Regions from separate parts of the Homo sapiens genome. Here region 1 is linked to region 2. Evidence: fine-mapped expression QTL. A gene starts in region 2. The other region holds a variant in brackets. All regions are shown on one strand. Distances are between the middles of the regions.

Region 1 (8,000 bases), 31 kb before region 2:
GGAGGACGCTGGGAAGGCCTGCACGTGACCCCGACACAGGCCTCTCCTGCATGAGTGCCCGGGGGTTGGGCAGGCAATCGGCTCTGCCCACCCTAGTGTCCACCAGCAGCCACCCCTGTGCCTCCAGGTAGGCAGGGGCAAGACGCTCTCCGCCCGACGGGCCTCAGCTCTAAAAGAGCGGGAGCCTGAAACCAGCCCTCGTAACCGAGGAGAGCTGCGGAGACTCCGTGACGTGGGGGAAGTCCCTGTTTGCAAACAGACTGCTCCCAAGAGCAGAGGCTCACCCTCCAACTCCAAGCCAGACCCACAGCTGGGGACGCTAAGGAGAGAGGGTGGGAGGTCCCAAAGCAGCATTTCCTGTGCCAGCGTCAGGACAGGGGGAGAGGAAGTAGAAGCAGCAACAGAGGGGACCATCACAGCCCCCGGGCGCCCCACAGCCCTGCACACGCGCAGTCAGCCACCCCAGGGCCCGTCCCACGCAGCCCTTCCAAACCAGCTCGTCTGCACGTGGAGACCTGGCAGGGGAGCACCATGCAGGTCACAGCACTCCCCACCAGGGCTTGGGGGCAACAGGCAGAGGTCGGTCTGCAGGGCCCCTGGTCAACCTGGGACTTGAGGCAGCCCCATCTGTGGGTTCCAGAGGCCAGGGGAGCCACCAAAGGCCAGGGCAAGGCCCGCTCGGTGCAGGCCCAGGGGTGGGCTTCCCCCTAAACAGCTGCCACCCATCAGAGTCTGCAGCTCAGCTGATGTCACCATGGAGACTCAGGCCACCCCCACCCCTCAGGCCTGAAGCTGGGCCGGGAGTGCTCGCACAGCGTGGGAACAGGGCTCAGCCACAAAGGGACCAAGTCAAGGGGATCCCGCTGGCCAAGCCAAAGACATTCTGCACAGACGTCCTCATGCGAGTCGGGACCTGCTCCCCAGGGCAATGGAGGCAGACGGACCATGGGGGTGGGCGGATGAGGCGACGAGCACAGCACCTATGAGGCAGAGTGGCGCTCTGCAGCCAACCGCTTCCCTCTGAGAGGCGATACCTGCCCAGGAAACGCTCCTGTGCAGCTGTCCTTGGCAGCTGGACTGGTACAGGGAGGAGAAAGAGGCCACTGCAAGGGAAGGCCGTGTGCGGCCACGTCAGCAGGAGGAGGGGCTACACACAGGTCGAGCAGAGAGCACAGGCCCCGTGCCTGCAGAGGAGAGAGGGCAGGGCCAGCGGCCGGCAGGGGCGCGCACGGGGCCCAGTGCTAGCTACAAGCTGCTTGGGCAGACCTGAGGAGGGCAGTGCCTCCCTCCTCCCGTGAATAGACGTCCTAGGCCGCTAAGTGCCATCTGCAGCCACAGGGAAGAGCCAGAGGGCCTGGCGAGAAGCACGGTGCCGAGTGGGGTGGGGGCCCAGAGTGCGCAGGCGGGCTCAGGTGTCCAAACCTGGGCCCAGGCAGGGAGGGAGGCTGCCGCAGAGCCTCCTGGAGCCCGCAGTGCTGGACTCCCCACGGAGGATGCTGGGCAGAGGCTCCACAGGGCCCCTACTGCTTCTGAAGCTGCCAGCCCCAGCTTCCTGAGCAGGGCAGACACCTCCCACGGGTCAGCCTCCTCCCAAACACCGGAGAACAATGGTGCTGAGGCAGGCCAGGGACCACTCCCAGCCGTGTGGGCGCCCTCAGCAGAGAGGAGCCACATTGCCGTCACCGGGAGCACCAGGCCAGTGGGAGCAGAGCCCGTGCCAAGGCCCGCCATGCCACTCACCTGTGTTGGAGCGAGGCAGAGGAGGGGGTTTGGCCGTGCTGGCTGCCGGCACCGACAGTGACTTGTACAGGGCTGTGTCCCGGTGCTCCTTGAAGCGCTCAGCCGCCATGAGGGCGTTAGACAGCTCCTGCAGGGGCATGTTGTTGATGTCCGAGGAGAAAGGGCTGAGCGGGTTCTCCAGGCTCATCAGCCAGCTGGTGTTCCCTGCGGAGGCGGCAGCACCTTTGGCCTGAGGCCAGTACCTCCCCTTACCCATCTCTGGCCCCCCAGGGGCCTCCTGGCCTGGGCCCTGGTTTTGCCCTCATGCTCCCTCCCACAATCCTCAGGACCACGATGTCGGAGCCAGCGCTGCTCTGACGGCCACCCACCCTGCTGCCCCGCTCAGCCCCTGCCTCGAGGCCAGGCTCCGCCAGGCACCTCAGAGCAGCGGCCTCCAGCCCACAGCCTCACAGTCCGGACCCAAGGCCTCCACGAGGGCTGGAACCCCTACTCTTTGCACCCCTCAGCCACGGCACACCCAGGCGCCCCTGGGCTCTGGGCCTCTGCAAAGGCCTCCCTCTGTCCCTGGGCTCTGGGCCTCTGCGGGGGCTCCCTCTGCCCCTGGGAACAGGCTGAGCTGTGCCCCCATGTTGGTATGCTTTAGTCCCAACCCCAGGAACTCAGAACGGGACTGTCTCTGGAGACTGGGTTTCAGAAAGCTAATTACGGCTAGCAAGGGACCAGAGCGGACCCTAAGCCATGACCGGTTTCCTCCCAAGAGGAGATTAACACGCAGACATCCAGGAAAGAGCCTGTGAGGACACAGGGAAAAAACCAACTGCATGCCAAGGATTGAGGCCTCTGAGGAGCACCTCCTGCCGAGGAGCACCTTGGTCTCGGACTTGCAGCCTCCAGGCGGGGAGGGCAACTCTCTGCCATGGAAGTCACTTGGTTCGCCACAGGCCCCTGCCCCACCTCAGCCACCTGGATCGCCCCTCACAGCTCACCTCTGGAGACTTACAAGTTACCCCCAAATGGCTGGGCGCGGTGGCTCACGCCTGTAATCCCAGCACTTTGGGAGGCCAAGGCGGGCGGATCACGAGGTCAGGAGATTGAGACCATCCTGGCTAACACAGTGAAACCCCATCTCTACTAGAAATACAAAAAAATTGGCCAGGCGTGGTGGCGGGCGCCTGTGGTCCCAGCTACTCGGGAGGCTGAGGCAGGAGAATGGCGTGAACCCGGGAGGTGGAGCTTGCAGTGAGCCGAGATTGCGCCACTGCGTTCCAGCGTGGGCCACAGAGCAAGACTCTGTCTCAAAAAAAAAACAAAAGTTACCCCCAAATATCCCAAGAGGGCCAAGTCTGCAATCGCCCCTGAGTGTCCACAGCTCTGTGGGTGACTGGCAGAAAGATGGCGCTCAGGCCAGCCCCGCCCAGTACCTGTGGGCCTCCGGACCAGGATCTCCGCCCAGCCCTGGGTCAGCAGGGGCACATAGGCCGCCAGGTTCGTCTTCTCCTGCACAGGAACCCGGGTGCCAGCTGAGGCCTTCTCAGGTTTCGCGGCTGGTGCAGTCCGTGGTCCTGGAGAAGTGGCACTGCCCAGGAACTGGGAGGCCGGCACGTCCAGGGCGCCAACTCGAAGACCATGGCCCCCTGAAGAAGAGGGCAGAGGACTGGTGACCACCACTTACCTGATGCAAAACCACCAGCCTCAAGCTGAATGCTCCCCCCGAGCCTGGCAAGCTAGTGCCACAGGCAGCCAGAGACGGTGGCAGCTCTGCCCTTGGGGCACGGCCCACCACAGTGCTGGCCTCAGTGAACCCAGGGCCACAGGGAGGGACCCAGAACCTGTCCTGCAGTCAGACCACGGCTCGCTGGAGCAGAGAAGGGCTCCAGGACTGAGCCGAGCTGAAAACCCGCAGGAAACACCAGCACCCAGAGCAGGCCCCTCTGCAGCAAGCGGGCCACACTCCACCACTCCACGGCTCTGGGGTGAGCTGTGGAAGGCTCACCCCAGAGTCAGGACGTGGGCCGGGCCTGAAGCCAGCCACCCCGGCCCCTGGGCTCGGGGCCTTCCTGAACACTGGGACCAGCAGCAACTGAGGGAGCCCCGGTGCCTGTGTGGAGGTGGCTGGGGCCAAGGCTCACCCGACATGGAACGGACCCGATCCCGGGCCCCACGGGACACCTGCTGCCCAGCCTGGGACTCCAGCTTGGCCGGCGCCTCCTTGGTCTGTCTCACATGCACCCCGGGGCTGGAGCTGAGAAGAGAATCCCACGCACAGGGTGGACTTAGTCCCCAGGCTGGTACGAGGGTGCCACGTGGGCCTGGGCTCGGGACAGCCGGTGTCGAGGCTGGCAGGCGCGGAGGAAAGGAAGGTGCAGTCACCTCGACTCCGGGCCGGACTGCAGCTCCCCCGAGTCCAGGCCTAGTAACGACCGGGTCCCGGTTCCCACGCTTGTCGTCACAGTGACAAGCTTGTTCCCAACCAGCCAGGTTTTGGTCCTGCCACCCGCTAGGAGGAACTCGCCCACAGGAGACCTAGAAGACAGGGAGCGTGAAACCCAGCTTGCCCGTGGAGCTCCCGCAGGCCCGCCCAGCCCTGTAGTGCCGCCTGGACCTCTTCGGGACAGCCGTGAAGTTGGAGAAGACGTATCGAGCCATCATGTCCAGACAGGTTTCCGTGAGCTCCAGGTGGAGGTTTTTCAGGCTATCGTCAGCCTGGGCCACGGAGTTCTCATCTGCAGACCCCAAGCTGGCACTGGTGAGGGACGTCTGTATCCTGCTGGAGGGAGAGGCCGTGACCAGGGTCAGGGTGCCAGGTAGGGCGGGCCGAGCCACCTATCACCAAGGGCCAAAGCTCAACGCATGCACGGCTGAGGACCTCGCTCGGAAAGACCCCAACAGGGCGTGGGCGGCCCAGCGAGCCTCAGCTTGAGAATCACGTGGACCACATTGTCCCAGAGAACGGGGAGACGCTGGGTGGGGAAGACCAGGCCTACTGGTCGGAGCAGACTCAGGAGGCTAGAGACCGACATCCCCCTCACCGAAGCCCACGGGAGCACTAGGTTACGGCCTCCTGGCGAAACGGTGTAGTCATGCAGAGAGGCGGAGGCCACACAGACAGGCCCAGATTGCATTCTGCCCGCAGGCTGCCTCCGGCAAGCACACAGAGGTCTGGGATCCCCATGTGGCCTTCCACC[G/C]TCACCCTCAGGCAGGCGAGCGGCTGCCTGAGCTCCACACCCAGTGACAGGGAAGAGGCTTATGGGAGTTCATTCTGATACAAATTTCATAGCCCCTAGGCAATATTTTGCTCATGATACAGAATGTGCTAGAAAATGGCTTTAAGCCTCACCGAGCACCTCTACCACCCCAACCCCTGGCCAAGTCCCACCCAGCAGAGGCCGGCCTGAGGTGAGGAGGTGGATGGACTGAGGGCCATGGGACCCCTTGGCCTGCAACGGGCTTCCAGGAGGAGACAGGTATCCCCTCTGCCAGTGCCAGCAGCGATGACCCACAGGCAGGTGACAGCCGAGAGCCCGAGAGCCCACACCTGCACCCAGACACTGCGGGGAGAACTAAGACCATGGCCTGGGGCCCAGGCCCATGCCCATGCCCTGCAGGATCCTAGCCCCCACCCAGGCCCTCCCAGGCTGCCCCACCCCAGCACCCTCCACAAATGCCCCTTGTTCCCTTTCAGCTACAACAAAAAATAAACCTTGTTGAGAAGAAAGCCCGAAGAAAAACGTCCATTCTAGAGAATACGAAAAGGCCAAAACCAGGAGTGGTGTCTCCCCCAACCCACACTGCGGCCCTTGGGGACAGCCTGGGGAGGCTGCTGCCCGGCACGCCTGGCTCTCTCGGAGCGGCACCCCGAGGGGGCCTGGGGATGCGTGCAACCAGCCCGTGCTCATACGGGGCCTGGGGACAGAATGCAACCTTTCCACCCCTCGTCACCGGCTCCCCCTGGGCTGGCCAGGGAGGACACGGGCAGACGATGAGGTCATGCAAGCAGCCCCATGCACTGCCACCCAGGTGCTCACGGGGCCAAGCTCCAGGGTCCGTGCCCCCCACCCGACAGTCCCGCTACCTGCGGACCACATGTTCAGACACACTGATGCTGCGGCACCGGAAGGCCTCGGCTGCAGAGCTCTCCTTGAATTCTTTCACGGGTGGAGAGTTATTCAAGCCTTGTTTGGGGGGTCTGGCTATCCTCAGACTATCGGGTGAGGAAGGAGCCCCAACGCCCCAGAGAGCCCAGCTCCCGGGAAGGGGAGAACAAGCCAGTGGAGGGGTGAGGAGGAAAGGTCCCAGGCCACAGGGTCAGGATGGAGAGATCCCGCGGGTGAGATGAGCAAAAAGAGCCATGCCAAAGGGCAGTTAGCGGGGAAGAGACAGAAAACAAAAATGCATGATAATACGTCTGGTAAACATGACTGAGAACAAGTAAGGCTTCACGCATGACACCAAAACAAACAACGTCAGTGCAAATTAAACGTGTGTGGGTCACCCCCACGGCAGATTCCAGGCTGTGCTGGCCAGGCAATCCCACCCACCCGCGGAAGGCAGGCACCGCCCAGCTCTGACCGAGGCGGCACTGAGGCCTCAGTGGCCAGGCCCTGAAGGTCACTAGGAAAAGAGACCAAGACCCCAGAAAGTAGTCTCTGGCCGTAATGGCCGAGCTTGGCCCCCGGCCCCCAGGGGCTGGAGACAACAGCTTCCGAGTTGAGGTCACGCTGGAAAATGCCGTATTCCCATCTAGGGAAAGCCAAAATAGCTCGGGCAGGAAGGTGGGGGACAGGAGGAGAAAGCCGTTCAAATGAAATGCAAACAAGAACACAGAGGCTGGCTCAGCTCTTTGCGGTCCGGCAAGGCGGCGGTGATGAAGCAGAGTCCCCGGCTAGCAGCAGGCTGGGGGCTGCAGAGGAGGGGGCAGCCCCAGACAAGGCCGGCTCCTTCGAGGGGCTCAGGCGCCTAAAGCTTGCACCCCAACCCCCAATTCCACAAGTAGGTGCCCGTGGCACACGCAGCCCGGACCCAGGCCACCACGGCCAACCTGCTGAGGGGCTGAGGGGTGTTAGCGGCCCTTGCAGGTCCTGCCCTGCCTCACATACTCCAGGGCACACAGGACCCATTTCCACTCACTGACTTGGAGGCACCGTCAGGCAGGCCACAGCCCCATGTCCTTCCCCACCCCACACCGACTCCAGGCACACCCCCGCAGGCCGTACCTCTTGGGTCTCTCGTTGAGACTAGTACTCCGGGCCCTGAAGCTGTCCTTCTCGGGGGTGTCATCAAAAGACAAGAGGACATTGGACCGCAGGCCCTGGCAGAGTGAGCACACCCAGACAGTGAGGGGTGGCAATGGGGGCTGGAGGCCCTCACCAGGCCTGCCGGGTGCCCCCTGGCCAGGGACAAGCTGCAGGCTAGGGGCAAGGCGGCGGCACCCAGCTCCCACCCCTCAATGCCTGCCGCGCATCAAAGCCCTGCAGGCTGCCCAGCAGAGCCCCCAGCGCCACAGGCACAGCCCCAAACACCCTCCCACTGCCCTCCACCTGCCTGTCACTCTGCCCGACCATGGACAGCCAAGGGCAAAGCAAGCCCTGGCCTACCGAGAGACACAGCCTTCACCGGCCCTGAGCCCACCTTAGTGATGAAAGGGACAAAATCCTTCCGGAAGGGCAGGCGGCACCTGATGAACCACATGGCTATGACGTGATGGGCCAGACACACGATGTACTGATTAAACCTGAGATGAGAAGGGGGCTGGCACTCCATCCTGGCAGCAGGGAAACATCCCCAGGGCATGAAGTGCAAAAAACCGAGGCGCTCAGGCCTTGGGGACAAAGGCTGCCGGGGCTTTCTGCCGCAAGGCCTAGCGGGGGCCACGGCTGGGAGGCACAGGGCCTGGGGCGACCACTCACTTGGAGGGGTTGGTGTACGGCAGGGAGATGGCGAACACACTGGCATACTGCTCCGCGGCAAAGTTCCTGTAGAGGTGCGGCAGCCTGGCCAGAGCTGCGGTAATGGAGAGGGTGGTCAGGGGAGCCGGGGTCCCGTGCAGCGCCTCTGAAGGCCAACACGGCTGCTCTGCCCACGGCAGCGATGGGGTGCTGCAGAGGAGAGAAGGCCACGGCCACACGGACGTGGCTTTCCCGACCCTGGCCTCAACTCTCGGTCCCATGGCCAGCCAACCACAGCTTCTGGGCCAATTCGAGCTGTCGCCTACCATTTGTGTGATCCGTGAGGAAAGGCTTCCGCACCTCTTTTTTTTTTTT
Region 2 (8,000 bases):
GGCCGTGTTCTGGCCAAGTGCGGTGGCTCACACCTGTAATCTCAGCACTTCGGGTGGCAGAGGGGAGAGGGTCACGTCAGCCCAGGAGTTTCAGACTAGCCTGGGCAACACAGTGAGACCCTGTCACGACAAAAAATACAAAACTTAGCCAGGCGTGGTGCTGCATGCCTGTAGTCCCAGCTACTTGAGAGGCTAAAGTAGGAGGATCACGTGAGCCTGGCAGGTTGAGGCTGTAGTGAGCCATGATTGTGACACTGCACCCCGGCCTGGGTGACAGAGTGAGACCTTGTCTCTAACCAAATAATAACAAAATGGCCGTGTTCTTTTAGATGTCATCTGACCAACATCCCAACCAATTCAGACAACTGGCACTCTCACCTCCTTTGTCTCATTGACAATACTCTTACCGTTGCAACCTGAGCTGCAAAGATCCGTGGACACAGGGCCCGGGACCATCCCAGCCTCGGAGGCCTATTTATCCACTCACAGGCTGCCCCGTACCCACACAAACAACTTTCAGAACAGGATGCAGGACGCTTGTTCTTTTTTTTGTTTTCTGAGACAGTCTTGCTCTGTTGCCCAGGCTGCAGTGCAATGGCACAATCTCAGCTCACCACAACCTCTGCCTCCTGAGTTTAAGCGATTCTCCTCCCTCAGCCTCCCAAGTAGCTGGGATTACAGGTGCCCGACACCATGCCCAGCTAATTTTTGTATCTTTAGTAGAAACAGGGTTTTGCCACATTGGCCAGGCGGGTCTCGAACTCCTCACCTCAGGTGATCCATCCACCTTGGCCTCCCAAAGTGCTGGGATTACAGGCGTGAACCACTGCGCCCGGCTAAGGACACCTGTTCTTTACACCTATCTTTGGTAGCGTACGGCCAGCACGTTTCAGATGAGCTGCTGCAGAGGTAGCAATCACTCTCCTCTTAGCAGATCTGAGCATGAGAGGTCCAGGTCTCACTGCTCTCCCACACACAAATGCTGGGCAAGGCAAGGGCAGAGCCCTCAGGTGCTCTACCAGCAACCTGCACTCCCAAAATGACCACTTCCTGTCCTGTCCACAAGTCATCAGGAAAGTCTGGCAATGTTTGCCCAAAATAAATATTTCTATGTCCGTGAGGTCGCCCAATACCACCGACCAGTCACCCTCCCAAAATGGCACCAAGACCAGCGTGCCTAGGATTGTTCTCTGTGGAACAAACCCTTTCTTGATTTTTCTTGGCCTGAACTTGTAACAGGAGAGAGCGAGTGAGCATGCGTTTCTATCAGCCACTACAAACTCTTCCTTTTTTTTTTTTTTGAGACAGAGTCTTGCTCCGTCACCCAGACTGGAGTGCAGTGGGGCGATCTCGGCTCACTGCAACCTGTGCCTCCCGGGTTCAAGCGATTCTCCTGCCTCAGCCTCCCAAGTAGCTGGGATTACAGGCATGTGCCACCATGCCCGGCTCATCATCTTTTAGTACAGACGGGGTTTCGCCATGTTGGCCAGAGTGGTCTTGAACTCCTGACCTCGTGATCCACCCACCTCGGCCTCCCAAAGTCCTAGGATTACAGGCATAAGCCCCCGCACCCCCGCTCGGCATAGAAATCCTTTCTGGTGTTGCTAGAAAAGCCTAATCCCTTTGCTCCCCATTTCCACGCTTGATTGGTCCCTCAAGGTTGTATTCGGGGCATTTCCAGTAGCTTCCCCATCACTACGATGAAAGCTAAATTCCCCTAAAACAGTGCAAACTGGCTGGGCGCAGTGGCTCACGCCTGTAATCCCAGCACTTTGGGAGGCTGAGGCATATGGTTCACGAGGTCAGGAGTTCAAGACCAGCCTGGCCAACATGGCGAAACCCCGTCTCTACTAAAAATACAAAAAGCCGGGTGTGGTGGCGCGTGCCTGTAATCCCAGCTACTCAGGAGGCTGAGGCAGGAGAACTGCTTGAACCCAGGAGGCAGAGGCTGCAGTGAGCCAAGATTGTGCCAGCCTGGGCGACAGAGCAAGACTCCATCTCAAAAAAAAAAAAAAAAAAAAAGTGCAAACCAGATCATCGGCAGTCAGCTGTCAACCATGTTCCTAAAAAAAGCAAACTCAGGCTCTGAATAGTCTACGTGCCTCTCTCTAGTAGCTCAACTGGATAAACCTACCTCTTCAAATTTCTTGGTTTTTGCGACTTCACAAATCTGCCCTATCATCCGGATGCGATTGTTGAGGCCACATTCCATGCTCAGTTCCTGGAGAGAGATGAAAGAAGAAAAAGGGGCCAGTGCTCAGGCCACGGTCTCCTTAACTGCAAGTCACAAACCACCTAAAGACTCCCACTGCATTTTCCAGACTAGAGACTTAAAACAGATCTTTCTGGAATCAAGATTCACTTGACGAGCCGCGGTGGCTCAGGCCTGTAATCCCTGCACTTTGGGGGGCCAAGGCAGGTGGATCACCAGAGGTCAGGAGTTTGAGACCAGCCTGCCCAACATGATGAAACCCTGTCTCTACTAAAAATACAAAAAATTTGCTGGGCGTGGTGGTGGGCGTCTATAATCCCAGCTACTCGGGAGAGTGAGGCAGGAGAATCCCTTGAACCCAGGAGGCGGAGATTGCAGTGAGCCGAGATCGCGCCCCTGCGCTCCAGCCTGGGTGACAAGAGCGAAACTCGGTCTCAAAAAAAAAAAAAAAAAAAGATTTACTGAGGGGCTTTACTGCTCCATCCCGAGGAGTTGAGAATGTGCAATTTTTTTTCACAACTGCAAATGTTGTATTGAGATAAAACATAACATGAAATACAATTTCAAACTGCACAATTTTTTTTTAGACGGAGTTTTGCTCTTCTTCCCCAGGATGGAGTGCAGTGGCGCGATCACGGCTCACTGAAACCTCCGCCTCCCGGGTTCAAGCAATTCTCGTCTCAGCCCCCCGAGTAGCTGGAATTACAGGCGCCCACCACTATGACCGGCTAATTTTTGGTATTTTTAGTAGAGACGGGGTTTCGCCATGTTGGCCAGGCTGGTCTCAAACTCCTGACCTCAGGTGATCCACCCGCCTCGGCCTCCCAAAGTGCTGGGATGACAGGCGTGAGCCACCGCACCCAGCCAGGATGGACTATATTTTATTCATCAGTTGATGAACGTTTTAGTTGTTTCTAAGTAGAAAACTTTACAAGTGCAAAAATTCAGCATTTACTCATGGGCAAAACACAATGCCAGGCATGTGTGACAAAGACACAAACACACATAAAAGATAACGACCTAGCCCATGTGCGATGGCTCATGCCTGTAATCCCAGCACTTTGGGAGGCCAAAGCGGGCAGATCACCTGAGGTCAGCAGTTCAAGACCAGCCTGGCCAAGATAGTGAAACTCCATCTCTACTAAAAATACAAAAATTAAATGGGTGTGGTGGCACGTGTCTGTAGTCCCAGCTACTCAGGAGGCTGAGGCAGGAGAACCACTTGAAACTGGGAGGCAGAGGTAGCAGCGAGCAGAGATTGTGCCACTGCACTCCAGCCTAGGCAACAGAGCAAGACTCAGTCTCAAAAAAAAAATAAAATAAAGAACCTACTTCTCCCAGGAACTCACATCTTATCATGTAACACCTGGACATATCCTTACCTGTGAAGATGATGATACTCAGGCCTCATCTATAAGATGGGCTTTCTTTCATCAACATCTGAATAGTAACTCAAGTGTGCCTGAACCAGGTCACCAAGATCCTGACTTTCGAAGTCTCCTGAGGAAGGACATGTCGGCCTCCAAGTACTGGAGACAGCATTCCTGTGTAGACAGTTGCCAGCAACCCGTCTCCCACAGAACCTGGTGCAAGACCAAACCCAGCCTTCTCTGCATTTCCCTCTAGCCTAGCAAAGACACAGGTAGCTCACTCACTCTCAGTATTTCCGCGGTGATGATAAACTCCGTCTGTTTACCCTCTGCAGACCTGGGATTTGGCCTCGGTGTTCCCAGTCCCAACAGAATCTTAAACTTCTCCTTCAAGCCTGAATCTTTGCTTGTTGGTTTGGCCATGGTGGACCAGGACGCACCAGAAAACCCCTCTGTGCAAACGAAACAGGAATGGGGACATCTGAGCAACACCTCTGCCCACCTTCCCCACTGCGGACCTCCAGCCGTCAGGACCCTGGGTCTCTGGTGGGCATAACCTTTCCTCCCACACTCCCTGGGAGAACTCAACTACAGCCCAGCTGACCAGCTCGCAAACAGGCACCTAGGAAAGCCCGGGAGACACCAGGCCTGGTCTAGAGAGCTCTCTACTCAGACGCTGCCGCCCGCCCCGCCCGACTCAGTGCACGGGTTAGGACTGCCGCCGCGAAGTCCTGGGAGCCCCGACGTTTGCCGTCTCTCCTCTACCCATGTGAAGCAGGAGCTGTCACGGAGCCGCCTGCAGCAGAGACCCGTTCGCACCCGCCATGACTTAAAACTAAGGGATGCTCGGAGCTCCGGAGTCGGGTTGCAGTGGGCGCGGGTGAGGGCCCGGGACCCGGACACTGCGGGGTCCGCCTCTCTAGGCCGCTGCCCCGTGGGGACCGCCACTTGCCCCGTGGGGACCGCCACTTACCCCGCGCCGCGCCACCGCGCTCCGGGCCGCCCCGACGCGGAGAAAGGCGCACCCCCCTGGCCCCGGGACGCCGCCGGAAGCGCGACCCGCACTTCCGGTAGCGGCATTGCGCGGAGGGCCGCCTTGGGAGCTTGCTGGGAGTTGTAGTTCTGTGCCGCCCTCTGGCGGAAAGGCCGGCGATCCTTGCATCACGTGACGGGGCCGCATGGGCCGCCGGGATGTGTAGTCCGCAGGAGTCCGGCATGACCGCCTTGAGCGCGAGGATGCTGACCCGGAGCCGGAGCCTGGGACCCGGGGCTGGGCCGCGGGGGTGTAGGGAGGAGCCCGGGCCTCTCCGGAGAAGAGAGGCTGCAGCAGGTAGCGCCGCGCCGTGGCTGGAGCGTGGGAGGAGGCGGGATAGGGGCTGCAGGCTGGAGTCCCGGGCCGCCTCCTGCGGCTCCCAGCTGCGCGGGCAGGGGCTGCAAACCCGGCAGCCGCGAACGGTTCCCACGTGCGGCCCTGCGTTCCCACCTTGCGCCTTTTTCCCAAAGATTGCGGTCCGCAGGGGCTGGGTTTCGGGCGCTCCGCTCCGCTGCCCCCTTTCGCCCCAAGCAAGAAAACGCTTCCTTTCCCACCACTCTGTCCGGGACTCTCCACTCCAGGCTCTGTGGGTCCCATCCCCGCCCTCCTGCAGTGAACTTGCTGTCCTCGGAGAGGCTGGGTGCCAAGGACACACGCAGCCAGAAGCCTGCTCCCCCAGCTCGGGGGAGGGTGCCTCTGAGGGAAAACAGGAAAGGGCATGGCACTTATTATATTTATCCTGCAGCCGTTGAGGACCTGCTGGGGGCCAAGCACTGCAGTGAGCAGTGAGGGACACGGACAGGGCCTCTGCGCTAGTCCCGCTGGGACTTCTGCAGAATTGGCCAGAGCTGGATTCCCATAGGCACCCAGGGACCCCAGGGGTAGTCCAGACTATGTCAGGAGGAACTGGTGCAGCTGGGAGCAGGCAGGTGGTGATGCCAGCCAGGGTGGCAGGAGCTTTGATGCCAGGATAGAGTTTGGAGTTTATTATGACAGTAAACGGAAGTCAATTAGGAGGTTTTGTTGTTTGTTTTGAGATCGGGTCTTGCTCTGTCACCCAGGCTGTAGTGGAGTGTTGTGATCTCAGCTCACTGCAACCTCCGCCCCCCAGGTTCAAGCAGTTCTCCTGCCTCAGCCTCCCAAGTAGCTGAGACTATAGGCCCCTGCCACCACACCCGGCTAACTTTTGTATTTTTAGTAGAGATGGGGTTTTGCCATATTGGCCAGGCTGGTCTTGAACTCCTGACCTCAAGTGATCCACCCACCTCGGCCTCCCAAAGTGCTGGGATTACAGGCTTGATCCACCGCGCCCGGCCGGCCAGGATTTTTTAAAAGGGAGTGACACAACCTGATGTGGGTGTTAGCAGACTGTCTCTGGTGCAGTATAGAAGATGTATTGGGGGCACCTTGGTACAGGCTGTTGCTAGAGTCCTCATGAGCTAACATGGACCTTGTCAGGGTCGCTGGCATAAGGAGGGCCCACATACCCCAGACTGCAGAGGGCAGAGCACCCCAAGTGTATTAGATGATGGACAGTTGTGGCATGAACGAGTGAGGGGTGAGCTAGCAGGCGGGATGGCACCCCTACCCTACCTTCACCTGTGGCCCCACCAGAGGGACTGCGTGGTGCTTTTTGCAGAAGCGAGGAAAAGCCACAGCCCCGTGAAGCGTCCGCGGAAAGCACAGAGACTGCGTGTGGCCTATGAGGGCTCGGACAGTGAGAAAGGTGAGGGGGCTGAGCCCCTCAAGGTGCCAGTCTGGGAGCCCCAGGACTGGCAGCAACAGCTGGTCAACATCCGTGCCATGAGGAACAAAAAGGATGCACCTGTGGACCATCTGGGGACTGAGCACTGCTATGACTCCAGTGCCCCCCCAAAGGTAGGCAGGGGCCCCATCTGCCCAGATGACCCCCCATCTTAGCAAGGTCCTTGTTTTCTTTCTACCCGGTGGCTTTTGGCTGGCACCCTCCCCTGCAGACAGCACCTTGGGAGGATGGACACCCGGTGCCCCAGAGCATCGCCTGCATCACTGTAGCCACTCAGCAGGTCAGGACACCAGTGGTTTAGGGCCTCGTGCTCGAACTTCTGCCCAGTGCAGGCGTGACCTGGGCTTTGTGTGATATCAGGAAGGAAGAGTTCCTTTTGCTTCACGGTCCCAGGGCCTGAAACCCTTAGACCAAGCTGAGTTCTAATCCCTATTCTGCTACCAGGTGGCTTGGATACAGGCCTCTCTGAGCCTCAGTTTGCTTGTCTGTAAAATGGGTAGTATGGGCCAGGCATGGTGGTTCAGGCCTGTAATCCCAGCACTTCGGGAGGCCAAGGCGGGTGGATCACCTGAGGTCAGGAGTTCGAGACCAGCCTGGCCAATGTGGCGAAACCACGTCTCTACTAAAAATACAAAAATTAGCCAGGTGTGGTGGCAGGCACCTGTAACCCCAGCTACTTAGGAGGGCGAGGCAGGAAAATCGCTTGAACCCCGGAGGCGGAGGTTGCAGTGAGCCAAGATGGCACCACCACACTTCAGCCTGGGTGAAAGAGTGATACTGCATCTCAAAAAAAAAAATTTGTTTTAAAGGGTAGTGTGATGATTCACGAAGCAATCATAATAGTAGTGGCCAATGGCTGTTCAGTAGTGATGGGCCAGATACGATCGTGTTGGGTTTTTTTTTGAGACCAAGTCTTGCTCTTGTTGCCCAGGCTGGAGTGCAGTGGTGAAATCTTAGCTCACTGCAACCTTCGCCTCCGAGGTTCAAATTATTCTCCTGCCTCGGCCTCCCGAGTAGCTGGGATTACAGGCATGCACCACCGCACCCAGCTAATGTTTGTATTTTTAGTAGAGACGGGGTTTCACCACGTTGATCAGGCTGGTCTCAAACTCCTGACTTCAGGTGATCCGCCTGCCTTGGCCTCCCGAAGTGCTGGGATGACGGGTGCGAGCCACCACGCCCGGCCACATACGATTCTAAGCACTGAGATAATTCATTTAAGCTTCACATTACTCCAGTGAGTCAGGTACTATTATTGTCCTGGTGTTGTAGATGACCAAACATACCCAAACCAGACCTCCCCACCCCACAGGGGGAGGCTGATGCCTCAAGTGTGGCCCAGGGCAACAAACCAGGGTGTGTCGAGGGCGGGGGGCGGAGCCTGGCCAGGGAATCACCCAGGACCCGCCGCCACCCCGGTCCCTGTCACTGCACAAGCAGGTACGCAGGTACCAGGTGCTGCTGTCACTGATGCTCTCCAGCCAAACCAAAGACCAGGTGACGGCGGGCGCCATGCAGCGACTGCGGGCGCGGGGCCTGACGGTGGACAGCATCCTGCAGACAGATGATGCCACGCTGGGCAAGCTCATCTACCCCGTCGGTTTCTGGAGGGTGAGCCCT

What was found.
Region 1: its variant is fine-mapped to the expression of TSC2 in tibial nerve (GTEx, PIP above 0.99).

Annotation. Positions count from the first base shown.
Region 1 is chr16:2,075,539-2,083,538 of GRCh38, reverse strand. TSC2 (TSC complex subunit 2) reads right to left here. Exons shown (of 42, transcript NM_000548.5): 23 at 7,647-7,740; 24 at 7,369-7,471; 25 at 6,954-7,048; 26 at 5,813-5,941; 27 at 4,343-4,507; 28 at 4,111-4,263; 29 at 3,870-3,982; 30 at 3,162-3,374; 31 at 1,741-1,944; 32 at 1,035-1,103. Among named protein-coding and RNA genes, the nearest start is that of MIR1225, 11 kb to the left of the region's middle. RefSeq lists an enhancer at 4,408-5,117. The variant G/C (reference allele first, on the strand shown) is at 4,926.
Region 2 is chr16:2,044,621-2,052,620 of GRCh38, reverse strand. TSC2 (TSC complex subunit 2) reads right to left here and starts at 4,636. Exons shown (of 42, transcript NM_000548.5): 1 at 4,556-4,636; 2 at 3,868-4,034; 3 at 2,135-2,221. The coding sequence starts at 4,005. NTHL1 (nth like DNA glycosylase 1) reads left to right here and starts at 4,787. Exons shown (of 6, transcript NM_002528.7): 1 at 4,787-4,912; 2 at 6,255-6,493; 3 at 7,821-7,991. The coding sequence starts at 4,798. RefSeq lists a silencer at 4,373-4,602 and enhancers at 4,693-4,782, 5,233-5,292, 4,884-5,383.